Linked DNA regions of Homo sapiens. The protein of the gene in region 2 interacts with the protein of the main gene of each other region in a pairwise test. Each region holds a gene or a part of one and is shown on either strand. Other genes may lie near its edges. The genes, in order: RNF11, PARP11 and GTPBP3.

What was found.
Region 1: the proteins of PARP11 (region 2) and RNF11 interact in binary tests that used the Homo sapiens proteins (3 or more experiments, as listed by UniProt).
Region 3: the proteins of PARP11 (region 2) and GTPBP3 interact in binary tests that used the Homo sapiens proteins (3 or more experiments, as listed by UniProt).

What each region holds. Positions count from the first base shown.
Region 1 is NC_000001.11:51,267,120-51,270,872, reverse strand, and holds part of RNF11 (RING finger protein 11), read right to left. Parts: intron 918-3,753; coding exon 748-917; intron 1-747. UniProt on the Homo sapiens protein: Essential component of a ubiquitin-editing protein complex, comprising also TNFAIP3, ITCH and TAX1BP1, that ensures the transient nature of inflammatory signaling pathways. Promotes the association of TNFAIP3 to RIPK1 after TNF stimulation.
Region 2 is NC_000012.12:3,824,797-3,828,549, reverse strand, and holds part of PARP11 (protein mono-ADP-ribosyltransferase PARP11), read left to right. Parts: intron 1-2,316; coding exon 2,317-2,392; intron 2,393-3,753. UniProt on the Homo sapiens protein: Mono-ADP-ribosyltransferase that mediates mono-ADP-ribosylation of target proteins. Plays a role in nuclear envelope stability and nuclear remodeling during spermiogenesis. Inhibits the type I interferon activated signaling pathway.
Region 3 is NC_000019.10:17,340,400-17,343,231, reverse strand, and holds the end of GTPBP3 (5-taurinomethyluridine-[tRNA] synthase subunit GTPB3, mitochondrial), read right to left. Parts: intron 2,189-2,832; coding exon 1,910-2,188; intron 1,755-1,909; coding exon 1,529-1,754; 3' UTR 501-1,528; downstream 1-500. UniProt on the Homo sapiens protein: GTPase component of the GTPBP3-MTO1 complex that catalyzes the 5-taurinomethyluridine (taum(5)U) modification at the 34th wobble position (U34) of mitochondrial tRNAs (mt-tRNAs), which plays a role in mt-tRNA decoding and mitochondrial translation.

The DNA.
Region 1 (3,753 bases), on a different chromosome or scaffold from region 2:
AACAGCTACATATTATAGCAGATACCTGAAGGAGAATGGGATTATTTTAGGTAGAAAAGCATCAGTTAGATCAACTTTGTTTTCTTGCACTATTTAGTGTAATCCTGGACTAAGACAATTTTCATTTTAGTAACTGTAAAACAGAAACACTAACTTCGGGCAACTTTGTTTCCTTGTGCTATTTAGAGTAATCCTAGAGTAAGATAATTTTCATTTTAATAACTGTAAAAACAGAAACACTAACTTCAGCCTACTTACTGGGTTGCTGTAAGTTAAAGCTCTCTTCATTAACACTAACTTTCTCTTATTTTACTTTATTTTACTTTTTGAGACAGAGTTTCAAGTGATTCTCCCACCTCAGCCTCCCAAGTGGTTGGGATTACAGGCGCGTGCCACCATGCCTGGCTAATTTTCGTATTTTCAGTAGAGATGAGGTTTCACCATGTTGGCCAGGTTGGTCTCGAACTCCTGGCCTCAAGTGATCCCCCGACCTCAGCCTCCCAAAGTGCTGGGATTACAGGCATAAGCCACTGTGCTCGGCCTGTGAAAATTCTTAATTACTACATAACATTCTCTTGCTAGTAGCCAGTAATAGAGCTATGAAAAAAAATTAAACATTCTCTTGCATTAAGCGAAGTGTTTCAATATATTAAATGTCTGACTTTCTAAAGTGCAGGAGAAAAGGCAAATTTTTCAAAAGCAATCTGAAAATAAAACTTTGAAATGTACAAATTAATTAAAACTTACTCCCGGATCTTTTTTTCTGATCCATCTCTTCCAGGGTCATAAACTCCTTTAGGCAGATGTTGTATAAGACCTATTCTTTGAGCTATCCTAATTTGTTCCTCTTCAGTCAGCTGAGTTGCTAGCCGAGTCTGGCTAGGTGTTGGGTGGTAGACTGGAACTGGAACTTGTTCCTAAAATATTAAAATATAGAGGAAAAAGATTATTTTTTAAAAACCTTTCGAGGGCTTATTTTTTGGTCAGAGATAGAAGGGAAAGGGAGCCCTGGGAGGGGTAGGAAGCTGGGCTAGTGTTTGGCTGTATGACTGTGTTTCACCCTGCCTTAACTTCAGCTACTAGAATAAAACATACACACACCAAAACATTCTCATTCTGCCTAAAGGATATAAACACAGACTTCACTGAACTGGCATGGAATGTTAAATGAACTATTTCCACATGATAAGAGACCAGCCTGGACAACATAGCAAGACCTCATCTCTAAAAATAATTTTTAAAACTTTTTAAATGGACTGGACTATGGCAAAAATAAATCTAAAAGTTATCTAAGACTAACTTTCCCATTTCATAGGACCAAGCTTGCCTACAGTCACTAATTGACAATACTGAAATTAGAATTCTGCTGCTCCTAATCCAACTGATTTTTTACACAACAAAACAATTCAAAGGAATCGTGTGTATAACCCCCACCTTTTTTTGAGATAGGGTCTCCCTCTGTTGCCCAGGCTTAAGTGCAGTGGCACAAACACAACTTACTGTAAACTCAACCCCCTGGGCTCAAGCAATCCTCCAACCTCAGCCTCCTGAGTAGTGGGGCCACAGGGTTGAGCCATGGTGCCTGGCCTATAATAATATTTAAAACTGAGCAACTCTGATGGAATGAAGCTGGGATGGAGTGTGGCCTAGAAGGGATGAGGCTCCCCATCCCCAAGCCCTCACCTTGGTTACCTTTGCAGAATCCTCAGAATCAACAGAGCAGTCTGAAAAACACTACTATCTCAGAAGATGAGATTTTCAGTCTGAAGAATTAAATTATAAGATTTCAGTCTCAGCTCGGCTACTTACTGTGATTGCTTGGACCAAGTCTCTTAATGTCTTTGAATAAAGCAGATAACAGTACCCACTTTAAAGAGTTGATATAATCATGAGATAACTAAGAGCTTTGTAAATGCCAATATTTGTAAATTATTCTAACATCTCCCCAACGTCATGATTCTCCCCATCATGATTCTCTGCTTTGCAGACTTTAAGCTAAGTGCTACTGTCCTTGGCTTTGGTCCTGGCTTTCTGGCTTCTCTTTGAATACTACAAACTCTTGGACTCTGTTGTGATCTCTGCCAGCTCTGAGTTCTTCAACCCTTGAATTACCATTTCCAGTCTAAATTACCTTCCTGAATCTTAGCCTCAGTCCTAGTTGACCAGTTTTGATGAGCTGTCATCCACACGCAAACTGGGAACAAATTGGTTTAAGACTAAGATAATATAAAGGGTCTCTTAAATCCTTGAACCTAACAAACAAAAATAACTAAATTGTTTTAGAGAAAATAAACTCCAACTATGGGTTTTTCAGAGGCTAGATTTCTTCAGTCTTGTGGTTCACATACGTGTAGAGAACACAGAAAGCAGAACAGAAAAGGAAAGTTCTACTTTACGGGGAAACATTAATAAACATTAAAGAAGAAAATAAAAACTATATTTTAATTCACGTTATGAGTGTATTTTCTCCTTTGGTATTTTTTTGTTAAAACAAAGGAACCCTCTCTATATCTTTTAGATATTTAAAATGATTGAACAATCTAATTTCAGTTTACATGGTTCAGAAAACCATAGAGGAAAGGAAATGACTAAGACCTCCTGATATTTTAAAGATGAATGTGGCCTCACCCTTCTTACCACACATGCCTAATTTTAAATTTTAATTCCCATGATACTTGTTTTAAAATGGCTTGATATCTGAGTTATCAATTGTTTCATAACTAGACAGCCACTGATTTTCTAGGCAGCAAAATGGAATCCTGATTCAATTGTTGGCTAACAGACACTGAGTGAGTAGAAGATTAGACAGGGGTATAAAAACAACAATTTTAAAAGATGTGATGGCTGGGCATGGTAGCTCATGCGTGTAATCCCAGAACTTTGAAAGGCCGAGGCAGGCGTATCACCTGAGGTCAGGAGTTCGAGACCAGCCTGGCCAACATGGTAAAACACCATCTCTACTAAAAATACTAAAATTAGCTGGGCGTGGTGGTGCACGCCTGTAATCCCAGCTACTCAGTAAGCTGAGGCAAGAGAACTGCTTTAACCCGGGAGGCAGAGGTTGCAGTGAGCCAAGATCTTGCCACTGTACTCTAGCCTGGGCAACAGAGAGAGACTCCATCTTAACAACAAAAAAAGATATGGATTTGGGGGTGGTTCCCACCATTCCCTATCTGCGAACACTATATGGTTTATGTTCAACACCTGCTTCCCCTCTGAGAATCAGGAATTTTGTCATATGCTAGGCAGTGGGTGCCTAATCAGTACCTGGGGCACTGAGTCTCCAAATGAGCTTCTCTGGCAGAAAACCTTTCATATATGTTGAAGGAATTAAGCATGTCCTGTGTGACTCCACTAGGAGATAACTCTTGGAAGCTTGTGCTTAGTTCCCTTTAGACCAAAGCACCTTTCCCCTTAGCTGATTTTGCTTTGATTCTTTGCTGTAACAAATCATAGATGTGAGTAAGATTATATACTAAGTCCTAAGAGCCCTCCTATTGAATCACCAAACCTGGGGACTGTTTTGAGGACCTCCAACGCCAGTGCTAGGTTGTGCTCCCACTTTATATTTGCAAAGCTACTGTGTTTCGTCCCCAGCTGAAAACAAATGAAAAATAAATAAATATTTTGATTAGCCTATTTCAGGGCCTAAATATGGACCTAATGACAAAAGGTATACAAACACATCTCACTGCAACCTCCAACTTCTAGGCTCAAGTAATCCTCCCACTGCAGCCTCCCCAGTAGCTGGGA
Region 2 (3,753 bases):
TTTTTGAGACGTCTCACTGTGTTGCCCAGGCTGGTGTGCAGTGGCATGATCTCGGCTCACTGCAGCCTCCGCCTCCCGGGTTCAAGCAATTCTCTGCCTCAGCCTCCCGAGTAGCTGGGATTACAGGCACCCGCCCCCACACCCGGCTAATTTTTTTGTATTTTTAGTAGAGACAGCGTTTCATCATGTTGACAAGGCTGGTCTTGAACTCCTGACCTCCTGATCCACCCGCCTCCACCTCCCAAAGTGCTGGGATTACAGGCGTGAGCCACCTTGCCTGGCCAGAACTTTTTTACTTTAAGGATCAAACAGATGTTAAGTGAGAAAGTCATAGGTAGCTGGCAATAGTTTCAAGAACAACTTTTAGCTGAGTGATCTTTCTCTCGATGTCTTTGTCAGAAAACAATTTCTTTAATGGACATTGCCTTCTGTCATTTTCTGATTGATTTGGCTCTTCCACAGATTAGCCAGATAATCTGGAAATCAGCCCCACTTTGGATTTCATCTGTGTTATATGGGCATGTTTTGGGGTATCCCATGAAAAACCTGATGAACTGAGCTCCTCAAGTTTCAGGCTGTTAGTTTCAGCTATTTATTGCTTAGAGGCAAACAAGACCTGGATGGGAGGCTTTCTTAATAAAAGTACATTTTGTTTGCTACACAGCTTGGTCCTTTAGCTGTTCTTTCTCAATTCCTGTGAGTAGTGTCTTTATGACAGTGTTAGTAGTGTATTGTGGCTGGGTAGGGTGGTGAAACGTTAGGAAATCCCCTTGGATGAACCAAGGCCCAGAAACAGTGAAGGGGATTTGTCCAGTAAGGGATTGATGGAACCAAATATGCAATAATTATTATCCCACCAAAGTTGTTTTTCTTGCTTTTTTTTTTAATTATCAAGAGTTAAAAACCATTAGATCCTTGCTCGTGACAAGCCATTTTTTTTTTAATGCCATTAGGCAAATAAGCAGGATTTAAGAGGCCCTGACATTTGTCCCTCTGTTGCAGTCTAGGCAGAAGGTATCTGGTAGGCATTTTTAGTCATGTGTACAAGTATTTTTGAGGAAGAACTGAAACCGAATGATATGCACAGACACCAGACCTCATGTAGAGGATGAACTGTATCAAAGCATTTGATAGGTAATTCAGCAAGCCACATGTTTCTGAAAGAATATTTTTTAGTAGACTACACTTTTTGGAAACTTGCTCTCAGAAAAAAGAGTTTATTAAAAATATCATTATTAAGGAATGGGAGTTACATATACTAATAACTGGAGTTCCCCAACCCTCTGTGTAATGATCCTGTTTCAGAGGCATGGATATTAGCATTTCACATGTACTCTTTGCAGTTATCAGCTCCAACCATTCTGCCACTAGCCAACTCAGGTTTTCTCTATAAAAATGGTGAAAAGTAAACTAAAAAATGAGATGGTCCAAGAAGATGGCATCACAGGTCTTGCTCCACATGCTGAGATGATCTTGCTTTTTCCCTGAACAGTGGTAAATCCAGTATGTGTAGAGTCTAGGAGAACACAGAAAGGACAGAACACACTTTATACTAGCCTTAGCCTGGGTGGGTAAACATAATCATTTTGAAATGGAATGATGTCAATTAGATGAGATAAACTGGCTAGAATCTTACATTAAGAATCACTACTTAACTTTGAGGAATGAAGAAATGGACCTGGTAAATATTGGTATGACTGAGGCATGGATGAAAGCAGAAAATGATACCTTTAAGTACTTAGTCTCTTATCACTAGAATCTTTTTATGTAAGTTTGTACTGGGTCTAGCCAGGTTTTCTATTTTTTAGGTTTAGTTATATAATTAAAGAGAAATCAGGAAATGTAGAAATTTTTGAAATTCTGTGAGTTGTACAAGTTTTATAATCATTTCCAAAATTTTTGGAGAGATGAAAGTACATTTTTCTTCTTAATAAACCAACCACATTTAATACTGTAATTTCTCTCTTTCTAGTACTCTTAGCTTTCCTAAGTTTAGAACTCTCCTAGTTTAGTGTCTGTTTAACCTAAGTGTGATACAGAAGGGGAATAGACCGTGCATACTGAGCAGTGGATGAAATGAGCATCTTTATGTGTGAGCTTACGTCAAGCAATGAAGCTGTGCTTCCTTGAATAACACCTCCACAACGTGGTACATAGCTAGCTGCATGGTAAAGTACCCATAATACACTATGCTTGCCAGCTACTCCCGAAGCTCCATGATTCCTGATCATCGCGTAGCGTGGCTATTAATCTTCATGACACTTTATAGTACAGTGTACTTTTATGACTTATCTAATATCTTGTCTTTGTATACAGAAATGAAGCAAATGAATCTCACCACTGGAAAGCAGCGCTTAATAAAAAGAGCCCCCTTTTCTATCAGTGCTTTCAGGTATGGTAAAGAGAATAGGGGTGGAAAGAGTGGGTTTTTTTTTTCTTACTATTGGACAGAAAAACAAATAGACTGGAAATATTTTGGTAGGTCATTTAATAATATTGATCTTTTAAATATCAAATCTTGGGCCAGGCGCAGTGGCTCACACCTGTAATCCCAGCACTTTGGGAGGCCGAGGCGGCCTGATCACGAGTCAGGAGATCGAGACCATCTTGGCTAACACACGGTGAATCCCCGTCTCTACTAAAAATACAAAAAAAATTAGCTGGATGTGGTGGCAGGTGCCTGTGGTCCCAGCTACTCGGGAGGCTGAGTCAGGAGAATGGTGTGAACCCGTGAGGCGGAGCTTGAAGTGAGCCGAGATGGCACCACTGCGCCACTCCAACCTGGGCGACAGAGTGAGACTCCATCTCAAAAAAATAAACTAATTAATTAAAAAAATATCAAATCTCTCATTTGTTGACAAAATAGCAACATTATTATTTACTCTAAGTGCTTCCTTTCATGTTATCCTTTTCCTTCTTGTATATTTACATTTTTTAATTCTTTAGAACAGTTTGCAGTTACAAAATGCCTTATGGTCTCTGCTCTAAACTCATAAAATAACTCACTGAGGTAAGTTTAAATTGTTAACTTGGACGTACTCTCTCAGAGCCATACAATTACTGGGGCCGTAAGAATTAGGTAGTTGTTCACTTTGTTTCCACCTACATTGATCTCCATTGGTCAACTCCTAGAAGTAATTTCAAATTTGTAGAGACTAAGGGAGCCATAGGGAAGATGGTAGAACAGTGGACAACAGTATTGCTTTCTGTTCCCTGGAACTTGGTTACAAATTTTCTTTTTTGCTTGCTCTGGCCATAAGAAGTCTGAAAAAGGAGGTATAAATGTCAGAAGACAATACATATTTATTATTCATGTGAATGAATGGACTTGAAGGAAAAAATCTTAAAGCATGTCTCCTATTTTCTAAAATGACTCTTCAAGCAAGTATTGAAATTCTTTTTTGTTCAAATAATTTAAAATGAAACTGGAAAAAAAAAAAGGTAGCATGTTAATTGCAGGGAATGCCTATTTGCTCCTTCCAAGGAGATTTTTGAAAGGATTAAAGAAAGAAATATTTTAAGTTTCTGTCAGTTTGTTTCTCAAGACTTTTGGTTTTATTTTAGCATTTATTTTGGTTTTATTTTAGCATCACGATATAAAAGTTATTCCAAGTACTTATAAAATGAATGCTCTAGTACTTCTGTGGAATATAGAGAATAGTATTTCCTTACTAGCTACGTCATATCCACATTCTTTAGTACAAATAATATAATAAAAGAATTACTTATCTTCAGAAAGTATTTAATCTGGGA
Region 3 (2,832 bases), on a different chromosome or scaffold from region 2:
ACCCATCTCTACTAAAAATACAAAAGTTAGCCAGGTGTGGTAGGGTACACCTATGATCCCAGCTGCTCGGGAGGCTGAGGCACGAGAATGGCTTGAGCTCAGGAGGCAGAGGCTGCAGTGAGCTGAGATCACACCACTGCACTTCAGTCTGGGCAACAGAGCAAGACTCTGTCACACACACACACACACACACACACACACACACACACACACACACACTTTGGGAGGCCACAGGTGGGCAGATCACAAGGTCAGGAGATCAAGACCAGCCTGGCTAACACAGTGAAACCCCATCAAAAAAAAAAAAAAAAAAAAAGAAGACTAAAGACTAAAAAAGGAATGAGGCCAGGCACCGTGGCTCACACCTGTAATCCCAGCACTTTGGGAGGCCAAGACAGCAGGATGGCTTGAGTCCAAGAGCTCAAGACCAGCCTGGGCAACATAGTGAGACCCCCCATCTCCATAATTCTGTTTTTTTTTTAAAAAGAAATGACAATTTGTAGAGCAATGAACACAATACCATTTATATATGATACACAAGACAAACATATTTGAAAGGTACATCCACAAGTATGCAAACATTCAAAGTTCTGGAAAGACACACATTAAGCCATGACAACCACAGAAGGGCTAAGGAAAATTTCCATGTTGAAACACTTCTGGGGCCAGGTGTGATAGCTCACGCCTGTGATCCCAGCACTTTGGGAGGCCAAGGTAGGCAGATTACCTGAGGTCAAGGAGTTCAAGACCAGCCTGGTCAACATGGTGAAACCTTGTCTCTACTAAAAATACAAAAATTAGCCTGGCGTGGTGGTGTGCGCCTGTAGTCCCAGCTACTCAAGAGGCTGAGGCAGGAGAATCACTTGAACCCGGGAGGTGGAGGTTGCAGTAAGCCGAGGTCGCACCACTGAACTCCAGCCTGGGTGACAGAGCGAGACTCTGTCTCAAAAAAAGAAAAAAATTAGCCGGGCATGCTGGCACATGCCTGTAATCCCAGCTACTCAGGAGGCTGAGGCAGGAGAAGCGCTTGAGCCCCGGAGATGGAGGTTGCAGTGAGCCAAGGTCGCACCACTGCACTCCAGCCTGGGCAATAGACAGAGGAGGGAAGGGTAGGGGAAGGGGAAGGGGAAGGGGAAGGGGAAAGGGAAAGGGAAAAGGAAAGGGAAGGGAAGGGAAGGGAAGAAAATAAACACTTCTAGATCACCTGAGTTTTTTTTACATTCCTTTGGTATTTGCAAAATAAATAAAAAACTACGAAACAAATATACTGAGATCCTCCTATCTCCATCCCAACCCGGATGCCCCAGCATCAAGGGTCGAACGGGACCTCCATTCAGCCCCATTCCAGGGCCTGAATCTCCAGGGAGTCCCTGCAGGGATCTCACTACCTCTCAGCTGTGTTGCTTCACTATTTGAGAATCAAGTTCTTTCCCAGGCGAATGAGAATCCCAATTGGCCTAAACTGTTTCCAGATCCCCCGAGGCTCCTGGGTCTCCACGCAGCTTGGGTGCGACTTCCCTGGATCCCGTCACTTGCCCACACAGAAGTCCTGGAAGATGATGTCCAGGATCTCCTCGGTACCCCCTCCACCTGTGAGCCGGGTCAGGTGACCCCGGGCCACCCGCAGCGCCTCTGCCGCCAGGGCCAGGTCTTTTGACTGCTTGTAGTGGCCGAGGGCATCCAGGCAACCCTGGAGGTGGTGCTGGTGCCTTGCTCGGGTCAGCAGCGGGGGATCTGTGGACGGGTCCCCACACCTGGAAGAGACAAGAGACATGGTCTCTCCCGACCTTTTACAACCATCCCTTGAAGGGGAAATGGTTGTACCCATTTTGTAGGTTCAGAAATTGAAGTTGAGGGACCCACACTTAAACTGTGGGTCAGGGGAGGCTGGGAGTGGGAGGGGGCTCACACTGCAGCTAGCTCCTTCCTCAGCGCCTCCAGGAGGCCGTCCAGCCCCTCTCCCGTCAGACAGGACAGCAGCAGGTGCGGGGGCAGGTCAGGACCGGGACCTGGGCCCTCCGGGGACAGCAGGTCCGACTTGTTCAGCACCAGGAGGAGGCGCTGGCTGCTGTCACTGGGGCTCTGGGCTCCCACAGAGGCTACGACGGTGGCCAGGAAGTTGCAACTGGAGGGAGAGGCCAGGTCAGAAGCATCCAGCATGGCCAGAATGAGGTCAGCCTGCTCTAGCCTGCGGGAGCAAGGTCAACTGAGCGGGGATCCCAGGTTGAGCAATTGAAGGCACTGGGTGGAGGGACAGTTAGAGGGGCCAGGCAGAGCACTGGGGGAGCTGCGAAGCGTGAGGTCGGGAGGGAGGAGTAGAGTACCAGGGGACCGGCAGAATGTTGGGGGCCCAAGCCGAGCACAGGGGGTGGGGCAGAGCAAGAGGGGCGGGGCACAGTGCAGGGGGAAGGGCAGAGCAAGAGGAGCGGTCACGGTGCGGGAGCGGGGCAGAGCAGGAGGGGCTGGGCACAGTGCAGTGAGTAGGGCAGGGCAGGAGGGGCGGGGCACAGCACAGGAGGGCGGGGCAGAGCAAGAGGGGCAGAGCACTGTGCAGGGGGAAGAGCAGAGCAAGAGGGACAGGGCACAGCACAGGGGCTGGGACAGAGCAAAAGGGGCCGGGTACAGCACTGGAGTGGGGCGACCATGAGTGGCGGGGCAGAGCAAGAAGGACCAGACACACCACAGGGTAAGGGGTAGAGAGCACCAGGGGTGGGGCAGAATGTAGGGGGTGGACAGAGCACAGGGGATGGGATAGACCGCAAGGGGCAGAGCGGAGTGCCAGGGCGGGACAGAGCACGAGAGGGCGGGGCAGAACGTGAGGGCTGGGCGGAG